Homo sapiens: one gene and its partner. The protein of the gene in region 1 interacts with the protein of each later gene in a biochemical or structural test. Each region holds a gene or a part of one and is shown on either strand. Other genes may lie near its edges.

What was found.
Region 2: of the proteins of MAP3K3 (region 1) and PPP2R5D, one has a biochemical effect on the other in vitro, tested with the Homo sapiens proteins (one study listed by IntAct).

The regions. Positions count from the first base shown.
Region 1 is NC_000017.11:63,688,087-63,695,827, forward strand, and holds part of MAP3K3 (mitogen-activated protein kinase kinase kinase 3), read left to right. Parts: intron 1-440; coding exon 441-508; intron 509-702; coding exon 703-795; intron 796-1,006; exon of another isoform or gene 1,007-1,089; intron 1,090-1,457; coding exon 1,458-1,649; intron 1,650-2,177; coding exon 2,178-2,326; intron 2,327-2,386; exon of another isoform or gene 2,387-2,906; coding exon of another isoform or gene 2,907-2,951; exon of another isoform or gene 2,952-2,994; intron 2,995-3,015; coding exon 3,016-3,147; intron 3,148-3,646; coding exon 3,647-3,776; intron 3,777-4,155; coding exon 4,156-4,333; intron 4,334-5,462; coding exon 5,463-5,691; 3' UTR 5,692-7,741. UniProt on the Homo sapiens protein: Component of a protein kinase signal transduction cascade. Mediates activation of the NF-kappa-B, AP1 and DDIT3 transcriptional regulators.
Region 2 is NC_000006.12:43,001,199-43,008,569, forward strand, and holds part of PPP2R5D (serine/threonine-protein phosphatase 2A 56 kDa regulatory subunit delta isoform), read left to right. Parts: intron 1-5,247; exon of another isoform or gene 5,248-5,264; coding exon 5,265-5,481; intron 5,482-5,712; coding exon 5,713-5,912; intron 5,913-5,997; coding exon 5,998-6,108; intron 6,109-6,215; coding exon 6,216-6,308; intron 6,309-6,736; coding exon 6,737-6,867; intron 6,868-7,002; coding exon 7,003-7,062; intron 7,063-7,168; coding exon 7,169-7,277; intron 7,278-7,371. UniProt on the Homo sapiens protein: The B regulatory subunit might modulate substrate selectivity and catalytic activity, and might also direct the localization of the catalytic enzyme to a particular subcellular compartment.

The DNA of each region.
Region 1 (7,741 bases):
GTGTATTTGCTACCTCACAGCGTTCTGAGGATTAAATGAGAAAAACCTCACTTTAGAAAATAGGTAAGAAAGCAGCAGCCTATCAACGATGATGCTGTGGCTGTTTTTATTACTGCCCTGGGCAAAGGATTCTCTTGGAGCTCTTTGCCTGTTACAGAGGTGGGAAGAAAGGCCAAGGAGGGAGAGGGCTGTGCAGCCAGGCTGGAGTTGGGTCAGATGGGGGAGATTTACCACTCAGGGTGCTGTCAAATTTGGGTCACAGACTAGTGAAGGGAGGGTGGAGAAAGCAGGAGCTGGGCTCAGAAAAGGGCTATTTCCCGCAAAATCTGCTTCCCCCACCTAATGCTGTGGCAGGGGTTAGAAAGGGAGACTGCCTGGACGCCCTGCTTGGTTGCTGTGGAAGTGTGCGGGAGTCTGTTTTTTCTTTTTGTTTTCTCCAGCCCATCCTTCCGGAAATCACGAATGTCCCGTGCCCAGAGCTTCCCTGACAACAGACAGGAATACTCAGGTGAGTTCCACAGAGCCTGGGTGGGTAATGCAGGGTGTCTGGGTGGGGCCTCAGGTGGCTCTGCTTCGACTTTTCTGAGTCAGTAGCTCTCCTTGGGCTTGCTGCTTTGAGGTCTCAGGTGCCTTGGGGACTTGGGGGCTTAAGTGGCTCACATTGACCTACCCAGAAGCCAGTGATTCCCCTGTCTTACTCAGATCGGGAAACTCAGCTTTATGACAAAGGGGTCAAAGGTGGAACCTACCCCCGGCGCTACCACGTGTCTGTGCACCACAAGGACTACAGTGATGGTGAGTTCTTCTTCACCTGCTCCCTGCTGGCTGCCTCAAGAAAGGACAAGTTGCCATGGGGAGGGTGGGTTCGTCCATGCAGTGCCTGTATTTTCCTTCATTCCTGAGGATTTGTGGCCCAGACTTGAGGCATGGGAGACAGGAAAAAAACAAAAACAAAAACAGGGAAGATAGTATTTGTAGACCAGATGCTGCCACTGGGAACTCTGACCTTGTTTGAAGCCAGTGGTGTGCTCCAGGGGCACCATCTCTCCCATGTCCTCTTCTGCCCCACAGCAGCAGGTGGCCTGGGCCCTGTAGAGGGGTAAGGAGTAGGATACAAGGAAATCAGTGCCTTCGGGTGTGGCTTGGCCTTGCAAGCAATTGGGAGCCTGTTGGCCAGCCATACACCTTCCCTTTGGCCAGATCTCCCTGAACCAGACTACTTCCTAATTTCTGCTTTTGTCCTGATTCTTGGAGTGCTTGGGACAGCAGCCTCTGTGGAATGAGTCAGGTGGGAGTGCGGACGGGATGGGCTGGAGCTGGTATTATCTATCACTTCTGGCTGAGACCTGGTTTGTATATTCCGCCTTGTAGCCCGGGGTGTCTCAGACCTGGTTTGTACGTTCCGCCTCGTAGCCTGGGGTGTGACTTGCTCTCCTCTGGCCCTTGCACCCTTTCAGGCAGAAGAACATTTCCCCGAATACGGCGTCATCAAGGCAACTTGTTCACCCTGGTGCCCTCCAGCCGCTCCCTGAGCACAAATGGCGAGAACATGGGTCTGGCTGTGCAATACCTGGACCCCCGTGGGCGCCTGCGGAGTGCGGACAGCGAGAATGCCCTCTCTGTGCAGGAGAGGAATGTGCCAACCAAGTGTGAGGAGCTGTCCCTGGCTAGGAGGAGACTGCCCAGGTGGTCTCAGACAAGCTACGGGGGCAAACAGCTGGGCCCCTGGGACCCTTAGGCTCAGCAGGTGGTGGCTTTGGCCCAAATGCACCACATGGGATAAGCCTTGGAGTGTCTGAAGCCTGGCTCCACTATTGTGTGACAAGCCTCTTCTCCTCTCTGATCTTTAGTTTTTCCATGTTTAAACTAGGGAAGAGCACACCCTTCATCCCTGCCATATTAAGATATTTAGGGGCTTTGGAAGGAAATGCATTTGATCAATGCAGAAGAGCATTTAACCATGACTTCAGCCAATCCTCTGCTTCTTAGGACTCTGACTTCAGGTCCGAGTGACTAGGGCACTGGGCTTGCTCCAGATTGTGGTGGAGATGCTCTACTAAGAGATGATGGGTGCTGGGTGAGGGGGAGCCTGAGCCAGAGACCCTGTTCCTGGAGAATGAATGGGATATTCATAAATAATGTACACAAAGTAACTCTTTCCTTCTGCTCTCCTGTAGCTCCCAGTGCCCCCATCAACTGGCGCCGGGGAAAGCTCCTGGGCCAGGGTGCCTTCGGCAGGGTCTATTTGTGCTATGACGTGGACACGGGACGTGAACTTGCTTCCAAGCAGGTCCAATTTGATCCAGACAGTCCTGAGACAAGCAAGGTACACTTAACCCGTGGTCTGACTTCAGTTCCCTCCTTTCAACAAAAATGCCTGTCTTACCACACAGAGTAGTTGCCTGAGATGCTGTAGGTTGCTTCCTCTGTCATTCTTCCCAAACTCCCTTTCTGTCCATCCTGGTCCCAGCCACAGGGTGAAAGGACTGTGGTCTGAAGAGCACCAAGCACCTGGAGGGGAGGGATTGGGTGTAAGGAACTAAGCTGATGCCAAAGTACCAAGTAACCCAAACTGAGAGGTGATGACCTGTGACACAGAGGGGACTCCCTCCCCTAGACAAGTATCTCTCCCCAGCTCTCAGCCCAGGAAGGAGCTGTGGGGCTCCTTCACTTGGTCCAGCTCTAGAGGAGGAATCATATGGCCTGTCTTTGCAGTTCAGCTTTCAACGTCGCTTATACTTCAAGTTCTGTGGACAAACAGCAGTTACCTTAACTAAGCACCCACGGCCCCTTCTCCCACCTCCCTGCCTCCTTCCACCCATGGGAGTGCCACCATCCCAAGGCCTGCCCAGCATTGTGGCCAAGAGCTAGACAGTTAAGAGAGTCCCCCTTTTCTCCAACTGCAGTTCCCAAGGCAGATCCCTGTGAGGCCACTAACTAGGGCAAGCTGAGCTGAACCCAGGCGGGCAGAACTAGGGCCCTGAGAGCTGAGGCGACCACTGACCCCTCCCCTAGGAGGTGAGTGCTCTGGAGTGCGAGATCCAGTTGCTAAAGAACTTGCAGCATGAGCGCATCGTGCAGTACTATGGCTGTCTGCGGGACCGCGCTGAGAAGACCCTGACCATCTTCATGGAGTACATGCCAGGGGTACGTGCCCCTTGAATGCATGTGAGACACACACAAAAGAGGGCCTGACCTGGGGGCTGGGGCCTGCAGGAGGGGGGTCACCTTGGATAGGAGTTTGAACACCTGAGGCTCCAGAGGCCCAGAGGAGCAAAGTGAGGTGATGGTGGGACTTGGAGTCAGGAGGGCCCTGCCTCAGGTTGCAGTGGGAGTATGAGATGACAGCTGTCCTAGGTCCAGCACTCCCCTGAGGCATGCAGGGCTGGCCCACTGTCCAGTAAATGCAGCCTTCATCTGGAGCAGAGAGGCCTCCCTGCTCCTGGATTTGGGTGGCGCTCTGCTTGAGAAGGACTTGGGGTACTCTCTTTTCCAAACTGCCTGACAGCTCCTGGCAAAATGCCCTGCCCAGCCAGATAGGAATTGAACAAATCACTCCTTTGCTGCCATGCTGGGGGCTGGAATGGGCTTGCCCCTCCACCAGCCCTCCCCTGAGGGGACTCCTCTGACTTCTTGTGGCCTCCAGGGCTCGGTGAAAGACCAGTTGAAGGCTTACGGTGCTCTGACAGAGAGCGTGACCCGAAAGTACACGCGGCAGATCCTGGAGGGCATGTCCTACCTGCACAGCAACATGATTGTTCACCGGGACATTAAGGGTGAGCAGGGCCAGGATACATGGAGTCCCCAGGACCTGGGTTCAAGTCTACCATTGAGTGCCTGCAGGGGCCAATCACTTAACCATTCTGAACTTTCTGAAAAGTGGGACCCCAGTTGTTTCCCTGAGGAACTGGTGAGATTGGTTGAGCAATATGAGAGAATATTGCCAAGTTCCCTCTACATGTGGGCCTTGGAGATGGTCATTTTGTGCGGTAGATCTGAGACTCCCCTTTGCTAAATCCTTTGCCCTTTGCAGTTCATGTCTAATTCAGTGGTAGCCCTGCCCTCTCCAGCAGCTCTCAGTGACCCGGGGGTGGGGAGGATGGGAGAAAATGCAAGAGGGTCCAGGGTTGCAGCCTCTGCCCTTTCATGCCTCAGGAGCCAACATCCTCCGAGACTCTGCTGGGAATGTAAAGCTGGGGGACTTTGGGGCCAGCAAACGCCTGCAGACGATCTGTATGTCGGGGACGGGCATGCGCTCCGTCACTGGCACACCCTACTGGATGAGCCCTGAGGTGATCAGCGGCGAGGGCTATGGAAGGAAAGCAGACGTGTGGTGAGCACTGGGACATGCAGAACCCATTCTTCCACCCAGGCCATAGTGGCCCCCCATTAGAAACACACCCTGGGGACTTTGTGGTGTGGCAGGAGGGAGTGTGCCCAGGGCCCAGGCTGCAGTGTGTGCAAGGGTATTATTGGGTGCAGTAGCACACACACCACATGGGTGGTGCTCAAAGCACACTCCATTAGAGCTGGGAACTTAGGCCATGGAAAACATCCCTCATGTTTGCTAAATCTCTTAAGGAAGCAGGATCCACTCTGAAGGCCTGAAGGCCTGGACCAGTCTCTCAACAGGAGCAGGCTTCTGTCCCTTCTCCTAGCACTCAAGACAGTTTGCACTTGCTCGACATAACCTTGTGTCTATCCTCTGAAATGGCCCCTAAGTCAGGAGAGCTTCTCCCCTTGGAAAGCTATTGTGGTGGGCTGAATAATGGCCCCCCCAAAGATGTCCACTGCCTAATCCCTGGATCTGTAAATGTGATTGTATATAGCAAAGGGCCTTTGCAGATAGGATTAGGTTAAGGGTTTTGAGATGGATGGATTATCCTGGATTAAGGGTCCTTACAGAAGGGTCTCAAGAGGTCAGAGTGGCTAATAGGAGGTGAGACAATGAAAGCAAGAGGTTGGAGTAATACAAGGAGGGGACCATGAGCCACGAAATGCAGGTGGCCTCTAGAACCCAGGAAAGGCAAGGAAACAGGTTCTCCCCTCAGAGCCTCTGACAGGAACCAGCCCTGCCGCCACCTTGACTTTAGCCCTGTGAGACTGATTTTAGACCTCTGACCTTCAGAACTGTAAGATGATACATTTGTGTTGTTTTCCTGCCTCTAAGTTTGTGGTCATTTGTTAAGAGCAGCTATGGGTAGCTAATACAGTTATTGTAGAGTTCTTTCTGTCAAGTCTAAGTGATTCTCTTTTTCCTTATTTCAAGAAGTACCCAGGTGTGTGGTGAGTGTAGGTCCATGAAGCCCACGTGGACAGACATCCAAGCTGAGGTATCCCTCAGCTTGGCCTGTCCTGCACCTCAGCTTGCTGTGAGAAAGGCGCCTCTTTCTGCAGTGGTGGGCAGGACAGCTGGGAGTCCAGGGCTGGCTGAGGGGTGACACGGGGTTCTCTCTTTCCAGGAGCCTGGGCTGCACTGTGGTGGAGATGCTGACAGAGAAACCACCGTGGGCAGAGTATGAAGCTATGGCCGCCATCTTCAAGATTGCCACCCAGCCCACCAATCCTCAGCTGCCCTCCCACATCTCTGAACATGGCCGGGACTTCCTGAGGCGCATTTTTGTGGAGGCTCGCCAGAGACCTTCAGCTGAGGAGCTGCTCACACACCACTTTGCACAGCTCATGTACTGAGCTCTCACGGCCACACAGCTGCCGGTCGCCCTTTGCTGCATGGCAGGGGGCTGCTGCTGGGCTCAGTGAAGTTGCTGCTTCTCCCAGGCAAGGCTGTGGACCATGGAGTGGCAGCCCAGCCAGCGTCGGTCTGTGCCCCTTCCGCCACTGGGGCTCAGAGCCGGGGTGGGGTGGCTGCAGCCTCAGGACTGGGAGCCCCCAGCCTGTCAGATCCAGGAGCTCCAGTGTCCTGAGCTCAGCGTGGAGGGGTAGGGGCTGGGAACAGTGTGCAAGGCAGCCGTGGGCCCCACCCTCGGGGATGTGTCCTGACACTGCAATTGGCACCGAAGCCCAGAGGGTCTGGGGGCACAAGACTGACGCCAGGGTATGAAGAGTGTTATTTTCATTCAAAGTGTTATTTTGTTTTTCCTTCCAATGTCTGGAGACCACCAGGGCATCTCTGGGCTGGATGAGCTCCCACAAGCCTGAGGGAAAGGCCAGCACTCGCTAGCAGTGGCAGGCAGAGGCCCAGGCTGCCGTCCCCTAGAGTCCCAGGTTGGCTCTGCCAGTCCTGTCCTTTACCAAAGATGAATGAAGCAAATGTCATGCTGCCTTATTCAGGGAAGGAGGAGCCTGTCCTGCCTGTGGCCATGACCCTGCCTCTCCCAGGCAGGGGCCCGCGATGTGGAACTGCTGCCACTGAGGGGGGATCCAGTTTTGTCAATGCAGTTGTCTCTGTTTTACAAGTTGGAGTCACTCTTATGCTGTACCCAGTTTCTAAACTGGAGACTGTGTGTGCCCTCTGGGCTCTGAGTACCCCTGCTTTGGGCTTGGGCCTAGGCTGCATTGAAAAGAGCTGAAGGTTGTGGCCTTTGCGCTCCTGGCCCAGCCTTTGTTCCCCACTGGAGCAGAAGGGGAGATGGACGACACGGTCGGGGCATCTGGCCTGGCCAGTGCCCTGATCCCAGAGAGCCCGAGGAGGTGTCTCAGGCTGCCTGAGTCGTGACCTGCTAGGCCAGAGCCCACTCCATCTGGTAGAAGGGAAAGCCCATATGCTACCACCAGCTGTGTCCAAAACCGCCAGCTCTGTTCTTCCTCAGCCAGCCTCGCCCATCCCCTTGAGGTCTCAGCCCCTTTCCCTTGTAGCTCCTCCCCTGGAGGGGGAATGGCAGCAGGGGTTGGGGAAACAGCATCTCCAAGCAGCTTAGAGTTGGCCATATTTACCTCAGCCTGGGCGCTGGTCCTTTCTTCCGGCCCCTCCCCTCCAAAATGTGCCTATTGCTAGAGCTCCTCCCTCTCAACACCCAGTTTCCTTGGGAGTTGTCATTAAAGGAAAAAAAAAAAAAAAAAAGCCAGTGCCCAGGGATGGGCATCTCCAGGGAGCTGGGGATTAGTGCCAGGCAGCCCTGCCAGCCATGCCTACATCCCCATGGGCACAGAACAAGCCAAAGCCTTCGTTGTATGTTGACGATGCACTTTTATGAATGTAGTTTCTATCGCTGTTTTTAGCCTTTTCACATCATGTAATGTGAGGCCTTGTACTTGTTAATTTATATCTCAGATCATATTTGATGGTTTTTATATATATCAATTCTAGACTGTTACAGGTGACGGACGCCTCAAGAGAGAGAAGAGAAAATGAAAGCAGCTGGTTTTGCAGAAGTGTGTGTCGCATGCGCCAGTTGGGCCTGGACCCTCCTGTGTCCATCCCTGTTCCCCCAGGGGCTCTATCAGCCCCTGTACCCCACACTGCCCTCTGAAGACAACACAGGCTCCTGCTTCCACCTCGGCCCTTGCCCAGGGTGGGGCCTGGCCCTCATCTTGACCAAAGCTGCTGTGTGGCAGCTCGGCCTCTCTACGACCCCATCTTGGTGGCTGCACACTCTTCCTGGCCCGCACCCCCATCCCCAGTCCCTGTTCCCCAAGAGGATACAGAGCACGGTGCTGGCTGACTCAACTGTGCGTCCCAGGTTCAGGGTCTTACAGAGCTCCACCCCCTGGGGTCTTACCTCACTGGGAATGTGTTTTGAAAATGAATTTGAAGACAAGCCAACAAACCCTGCACTCCAAA
Region 2 (7,371 bases), on another chromosome or scaffold:
GGGTGGAGTGCAATGACATGATCTCAGCTCATTGCCAAGATCAAGCAATTCTCCTGCCTCAGCCTCCCGAGTAGCTGGGATTATAGGCATGCGCCACCTCGCCCGGCTAACTGTATTTTTAGTTGAGTTGGGGTTTCTCCATGTTGGTCAGGCTGGTCTTGAACTCCCAACCTCAGGTGATCCACCTGCCTCGGCCTCCCAAAGTGCTGGGATTGCAGGCATGAGCCACTGTGCCCGGCCAGGATCCCCCATTTTTAAATGAGGATAATGGACTCAACGGAACATTTGAGTTGTGCTAGCATAGGAAGGAGATTCTAGGCTGCATTCCTAAAACCTGGATATGGGAAATAATAGTAATAGTAGTGGTGGTAGTAGAAGGTACCTCTTATAAAATGCTTCTTTAGGGCTGGGCACGGTGGCTCACACCTGTAATCCCAGCACTTTGGGAGGCTGAGGCGGGCGGATCATGAGGTCAGGAGATCGAGATCAGCCTGGCTAACATGGTGAAATTCCGTCTCTACTAAAAATACGACAAAAAATTAGCCGGGCGTGGTGGCACGCACCTGTAATCTCAGCTACTCCGGAGGCTGAGGCAGGAGAATTGCTTGAACCCGGGAGGCAGAGGTTGCAGTGAGCTGAGATTGCGCCACTGCACTCCAGCCGGGTGACAGAGCCAGACTCTGTCTCAAAAAAAAAAAAATGCTTCTTTAGTGCGTGACAGAGCCAGACTCTGTCTCAAAAAAAAAAAAAATGCTTCTTTAGTGCGAGGAACTGTTCATCTCTATCCTTACGATAGTGCTATAAGGTAGGTATGGTTGTCATCCCATTTTGTAGATGAGAAAACTGAGGTGCAGACTTTCTGGATATTACTCAGCTAATAAGTGGCGAGCCAGGATTGAACCCAGGCAGGCAGTCTGGCCCAAGGTGTTATTGAGCACCAAGCTCCACAGATAAGGGTTTGGTTGTTCTTTTTTTTTTTTTTTGATTCGGAGTCTCGCCCTATCACCCAGGCTGGGGTGCAATGGCATGATCTCAGCTCACTGCAACCTCTGCCTCCCGAGTTCAAGAGATTCTCCTGCCCCAGCCTCCCGAGTAGCTGAGATTACAGGCACGTGCCACCACGCCCAGCTAATTTTTTGTATCTTTAGTAGAGGCAGGGTTTCACCATGTTGGCCAGGCTGCTCTCAAACTCCTGACCTCGTGATCCGCCCGCCTCTGCCTCTCAAAGAGTTGGGATTACAGGTGTGAGCCACCGTGCCTGGCCTAGTTGTTCTTAAGGCAGGGAAATGGAGGCCTGAGGCAGAGGAGTGTCTGGATACACACCAAGTGCTGGCCCCCAACCTGCTTTTCTCTTACTACCACTTCCCCCACCCCAAGGTGCAACTCATCTGCCATATGTAGAAAGGGAGACCTCAGACCTCCAGATGCCTTGCCATGTCTAATACACGGGACCCACAGGCTGGACCCGGTGCTCCTCTCCTGTTCTCTCATCCCTAGATAGGTGACAAGTCCACATCATTGTTTTTATAAAAAATTCAGAGGATGCAATTAATAACATTTCTGTCTTCCTTCCCTCCCCCACCCCAGAGGATTTCAAGTTCTTCTATTATTATGGTAAGGAGTAAGAGTTTGGGATGGGAGCTGGAGAGGAGCGGGAGATGGCAGGTATGAGGCCAAGAGGTCACCTTTCCCTTTCCCTGTGGTGAGGGTACCCAGCTGGACATGGCCTCTGCCTAGTCCTATTCTAGACTCTGTTTGGGGGCAAGGGCTGTCCTGTGGTTTAGCTTCTTTCCTCTCCCAACAGGGGGCTGCCTGGACAGTCCAGGAGTACCTGTGGGCAGACAGCCCTGCAAATACCTGTATTTAGACTTCTGAAAATGGACTTCATGGGGCTGTAACACCTGTGTCTGGGAGCTATGCCTTTAAAAAGGGATAGCTTTTAGGCTGGGCACGGTGGCTCACACCTGTAATCCCAACACTTTGGGAGGCCGAGGCAGGTGGATTAATTTAGGTCAGGAGTTCAAGACCAGCCTGGCCAACGTGGAGAAACCCCATCTCTACAAAAAATACAAAAAGTAGCTGGCATGGTGGCGGGTGCCTGTAATCCCAGCTACTCGGGAGGCTGAGGCAGGAGAATCACTTGAACCTGGGAGGTGCAGGTTGCAGTGAGCCAACATTCTGCCACTGCACTCCAGCCTGGATGACAGAGCGAGACTCCATCTCAAAAATAAATAAATAAAATAAAAATAAAAAGAGATAATTTTAAAAATTAGCTGCATTTCTCCCATTATAAAAGCAGTATCATACTACACAATGGAAGTAAGGCAGAAAAAAAGCAGTGTCAGCTTGTAGAAAATTTAGAAATGCAGAAGTAATCTAATTCTACTACAGGAGATAGTCATTAACACAGTGGTGGACTTGGGCTTGTTCTTACCTTTTCTGAACCTCGTTTTTGGTTCTGTGCATGTGTTTTAATGTGAGCGAGCTCATTTTGTGTATCTAGTTTTGTACTGTATTTTTTTTTTATGTATGTATGTATGTATTTATTTATTTTTTGAGACGGCGTCTCGCTGTCTCCCAGGCTGGAGTGCAGTGGCGTGATCTCGGCTCACTGCAAGCTCCGCCTCCCGGGTTCACGCCATTCTCCTGCCTCAGCCTCCCGAGTAGCTGGGACTACAGGCACCCACCACCACGCCCGACTAATTTTTTGTATTTTTAGTAGAGACGGGGTGGATGGTCTCGATCTCCTGACCTCGTGATCTGCCCGCCTCGGCCTCCCAAAGTGTTGGGATTACAGGCGTGAGCCACCGCGCCCGGCCTGTGTATTTACTTTTTGAAGATGGAGTCTCGCTCTGTCGCCCAGGCTGGAGCTGGAGTGCAGTGGCATGAGCTCAGCTCACTGCAACGTCCGCCTCCTGGGTTTGAGCAATTCTCTTGCCTCAGCCTCCCAAGTAGCTGGGACTACAGGCACCCACCACCAGGCCTGGCTAATTTTTTGTATTTTAGTAGAGACAGGGTTTCACTGTGTTGTCCAGGCTGGTCTCAAACTCCTGAGGTCAGGCAATCCACCTGCCTTGGCCTCCCAAAGTGCTGGGATTACAGGCGTGAGCCACCGCACTTGGCCTTGTACTATCATTATTTAACTTAGCATAGGAAGCAATTTTCTGTCATTATGTAGTTTTAGGCCTTTTGTTTTATTTCAAAATTTTATCAGTATGATAACACATACATTGTTCAGATATTACTACTATTGGGGTTGGAATGCAACTCTTAGCTCTTTCCTCATTAGATTCCTTTAGATTTTCACATTAGATTCTTTTCCTACTTTAGATTAGATTCCTTTAGATTTTCACATTGGATTCTTTTCCTACTTTTTTTTTTTTTTTTTTGAGATTTAGATATTATCAATTGACTTTCTACCATGGAAAATAAGTCCTCATCATTCTTATGCCTTTCTGCAGACATTTCCCTTCCTCCAAAAATACCACCATTTTGGGCAAATTACTATGAACGTGAAAATATTTTTTACAACTAAACTATGTATTACATAGTTTTCTTTTCTTTTTTTTTTTTTTGAGGCAGAGTCTCACTCTGTCATCCAGGCTGGAGTGCAATGGCGCAATCTTGGCTCACTGCAACCTCCTGGGTTCAAGTGATTCTCCTGCCTCAGCCTCCCGAGTAGCTGGGATTACAGGCACCCGCCACCACACCCGGCTAATTTTGTATTTTTAGTAAGAGATGGGGTTTCACCTTGCTGGCCAGCTGGTCTGGAACTCCTGACCTCAAGTGATACACCCACCTTGGCCAAAGTGCTGGGATTACAGGCATGAGCCACTCACTGCACCTGGCCCATAGTTTTTATAAACATAATATTAACTCCTGATATTCCATTTATTCATTTTCTGTTATAAATGAGGTTGTTAAAAGTATTTGTGCACAAAGCTTTTTTTTTTTTTTTTCTTTTTGCCTGGCTACCTCTGTCTCCTCCAAAGCTTTTTTTTTTTAATTTAGGATTTTTATTAAGCTAAATTTCTAGTAAAGTCCTAAGACATGGGAATGAATTTCTTTCTTTTACCTTTTTAAATTTGAAAATTTTTATCTTTAGAGACAGTGTTGTTTTGTTGTTCAGGCTGGAGTGCAGTTGGTGTGATCATAGCTCATGGGAGACTTGAACTCCTGGGCGCAAGGGATCCTCCAACCTTGAGTAGCTGGAACTCCAGTAAGCTTCCTGAGTAGCTGGAACTGCAGGCATGTGCCACCACACCTGGCTAATTAAAAAAAATTTTTTGTAGAGATGGGGTCTTGCTACGTTGTTCAGGCTGGTTTCAAACTTCTGGCTTCAAGTAATCCTCCTGCTTTGGCTTCCCAAAGTGTTGGGATTACAGGCTTTGGCCACTGTGCCTGGCCTTTCTTTTACCTTTTGTTTTGTTTTTTTTTTTTGAGACAAAGTCTCGCTCTTGTCCCCCAGGCTGGAGTGCAATGGCATGATCTCGGCTCACTGCAACCTCCGCCTCCTGGGTTCAAGCGATTCTCCTGCCTCAGCCTCCCAAGTAGCTGGGATTACAGGCGCCTGCCACCACGCCTGGCTAATGTTTGTATTTTTAGTAGAGATGGGGTTTCACCATGTTGGCCTGGCTGGTCTTGAACTCTTGACCTCAGGTGATCTGCCCTCCTCGGCCTCCCAAAGTGCTGGGATTACAAGTGTGAGCCACTGCGCCCGGCCTCTTCTACCTTTTGATTGGAGACTGTCATACATTCAGTAAAGGATCTTAAGTGTACTGCTCAATAAATTTTAGGTATGTATCTGCCATGCACCACCTTGCAGGTCCAGTCAAGATACAGGATGTTTACATTACTCAGAAGGCTCCTCATGTCTCTTCTTATTCCTCATGTGTCTTCTTATTCATCATGTGTCTTCTTAGCAATACCCACCCCATTTCCCCTGGCAACGTAATCACTTTTTTGACTTCTGTCACCATCAATCTATCAATTAGCTTTACCTGTTCATGAACTGGAATGAACGTTTTAAAGGCTCTTGATGCACAAGCAGTGGGCATCTCTTTGGGTGATGTGACTTCTTGACTGCTCCCTGCCAGGGCTACAGCACAGTTATCTCTGTAACCCTGGCCTTAGCTCCTTCGGGGCAGGAGACAGCTGCTCACTGCCCAGGCCTGTGCAGGCATAAACAGACTTGGGGATGGCCAGGCCCAGGGTGGGAGGCATATCTTGGGAAGTGGATTTCAACAGGTGACTTGTTTGACCAGGCCCAGCCGCAGCCCCAGCCCCAGCCCCAGCCCCAAGCCCAGTCTCAGCCACCGTCATCCAACAAGCGTCCCAGCAATAGCACGCCGCCCCCCACGCAGCTCAGCAAAATCAAGTACTCAGGGGGGCCCCAGATTGTCAAGAAGGAGCGACGGCAAAGCTCCTCCCGCTTCAACCTCAGCAAGAATCGGGAGCTGCAGAAGCTTCCTGCCCTGAAAGGTACTTGGCAATTGGTCACAGGGGCTGTTTTACCAGTTCTAGTGGGCATCGGGAGTTGGTGGAATGGAAGTTTTGGGGTATTTTGCGGGGAAGGGAGTTCCAGAGAATGCGGGAAGGGGGTGCCAGGGAGCAGGATGGTGGCAGGGTGGGGTAAGGGAAAGCCCTTGAAGGCAAGCAGGGCATCGCAGTGAAGGACTACAGAGGAGAACCTGACTGCTGGGGCCCCCACAGATTCGCCAACCCAGGAGCGGGAGGAGCTGTTTATCCAGAAGCTACGCCAGTGCTGTGTCCTCTTTGACTTCGTGTCAGACCCACTCAGTGACCTCAAATTCAAGGAGGTGAAGCGGGCAGGACTCAACGAGATGGTGGAGTACATCACCCATAGCCGTGATGTTGTCACTGAGGCCATTTACCCTGAGGCTGTCACCATGGTGGGCACAGGGAAAGGACACAGGGGGGACTGGTGAGGGGCTCTGGAGAAGCCCAGGTGGAGCTCTAACTGGCCCTACCCCTCAGTTTTCAGTGAACCTCTTCCGGACGCTGCCACCTTCATCGAATCCCACAGGGGCTGAGTTTGACCCAGAGGAAGATGAGCCCACCCTGGAAGCTGCTTGGCCACATCTCCAGGTACCAGGGCAAGGGGGCAGATTGGCCGTGGCTGCAGGGAGTGGGGCACTTGGAGGCCTGCAAGTCCTTGGGAACATCCCCTCAGTGGCGTGCCTTTTCCCCTATAGCTCGTGTATGAGTTCTTCTTACGTTTCCTTGAGTCTCCTGATTTCCAGCCAAACATAGCCAAGAAGTACATCGACCAGAAGTTTGTACTTGCTGTGAGTCCCCGAGTTCCTGTCCTTGCCCTCTCTTTCCATTCCATGCCCCCTTCATCTGTGTCCCAGTGGCTCTTTCCCCTTAAGCTGAATATATTGGGTTTCATCCATGTCTGGTACGAGGAGGCTATAAAGGGTAAAAAACAAAACAAAACAAAACCCTACTCTGGCCTTAAGAAACTAACAACATAATGGTAGGAAACAAAAAAGCAACAGAGTACCTCTCTCAGGTCAATAGTGAGGCATCACTTTGGAAGTCTCAGTACAAATACAATAGAATCAGCAATATAATAGAATCACTGCTTTCTAAGACTTGCTGGCCCCCACTCCAGGGGACCTCTGCATTTCCCCTGGCGGGACCTATGTCACCCTGGCCACTGCCTTCCCTGGCTGCTGCCTCACTGGCTGCTTTCCCTCCCTTGTACCCCCAGCTCCTAGACCTATTTGACAGTGAGGATCCTCGAGAGCGGGACTTCCTCAAGACCATTTTGCATCGCATCTATGGCAAGTTTTTGGGGCTCCGGGCTTATATCCGTAGGCAGATCAACCACATCTTCTACAGGTGAGGCCAGGAGCCCAGGCTTAGGAGCAAAACCTTCTGCTACTGAGGTGGGGTGGGAGCAGGGAGGTGGGGGGACTGTACAGAATGCTGGAGGGACATCAGGGGTTGTCAAGAGAGCCATTTTTCTTCCCTCAGGTTCATCTACGAGACGGAGCATCACAACGGGATTGCTGAGCTCCTGGAGATCCTGGGCAGGTGAGAGGCCGGGTGGGGGCACAGATGCCTGAAAAAGGTTGGCAGGATTGGTGTACTGAACTTGGATCTGACCCTCTGGTCCTAACAAATGTCCCTTAATTCCTAGCATCATCAATGGCTTTGCCCTGCCCCTTAAAGAAGAGCACAAGATGTTCCTCATCCGTGTCCTACTTCCCCTTCACAAGGTCAAGTCCCTGAGTGTCTACCACCCTCAGGTGAGCTGCCTTCCTCCTTATAATGTCCAACTCAGGCAGCAGAGAAAAGAGCCGGCAGGAAAGTGTTCCAGCTGGGATAGGGGAAGCATAGGGA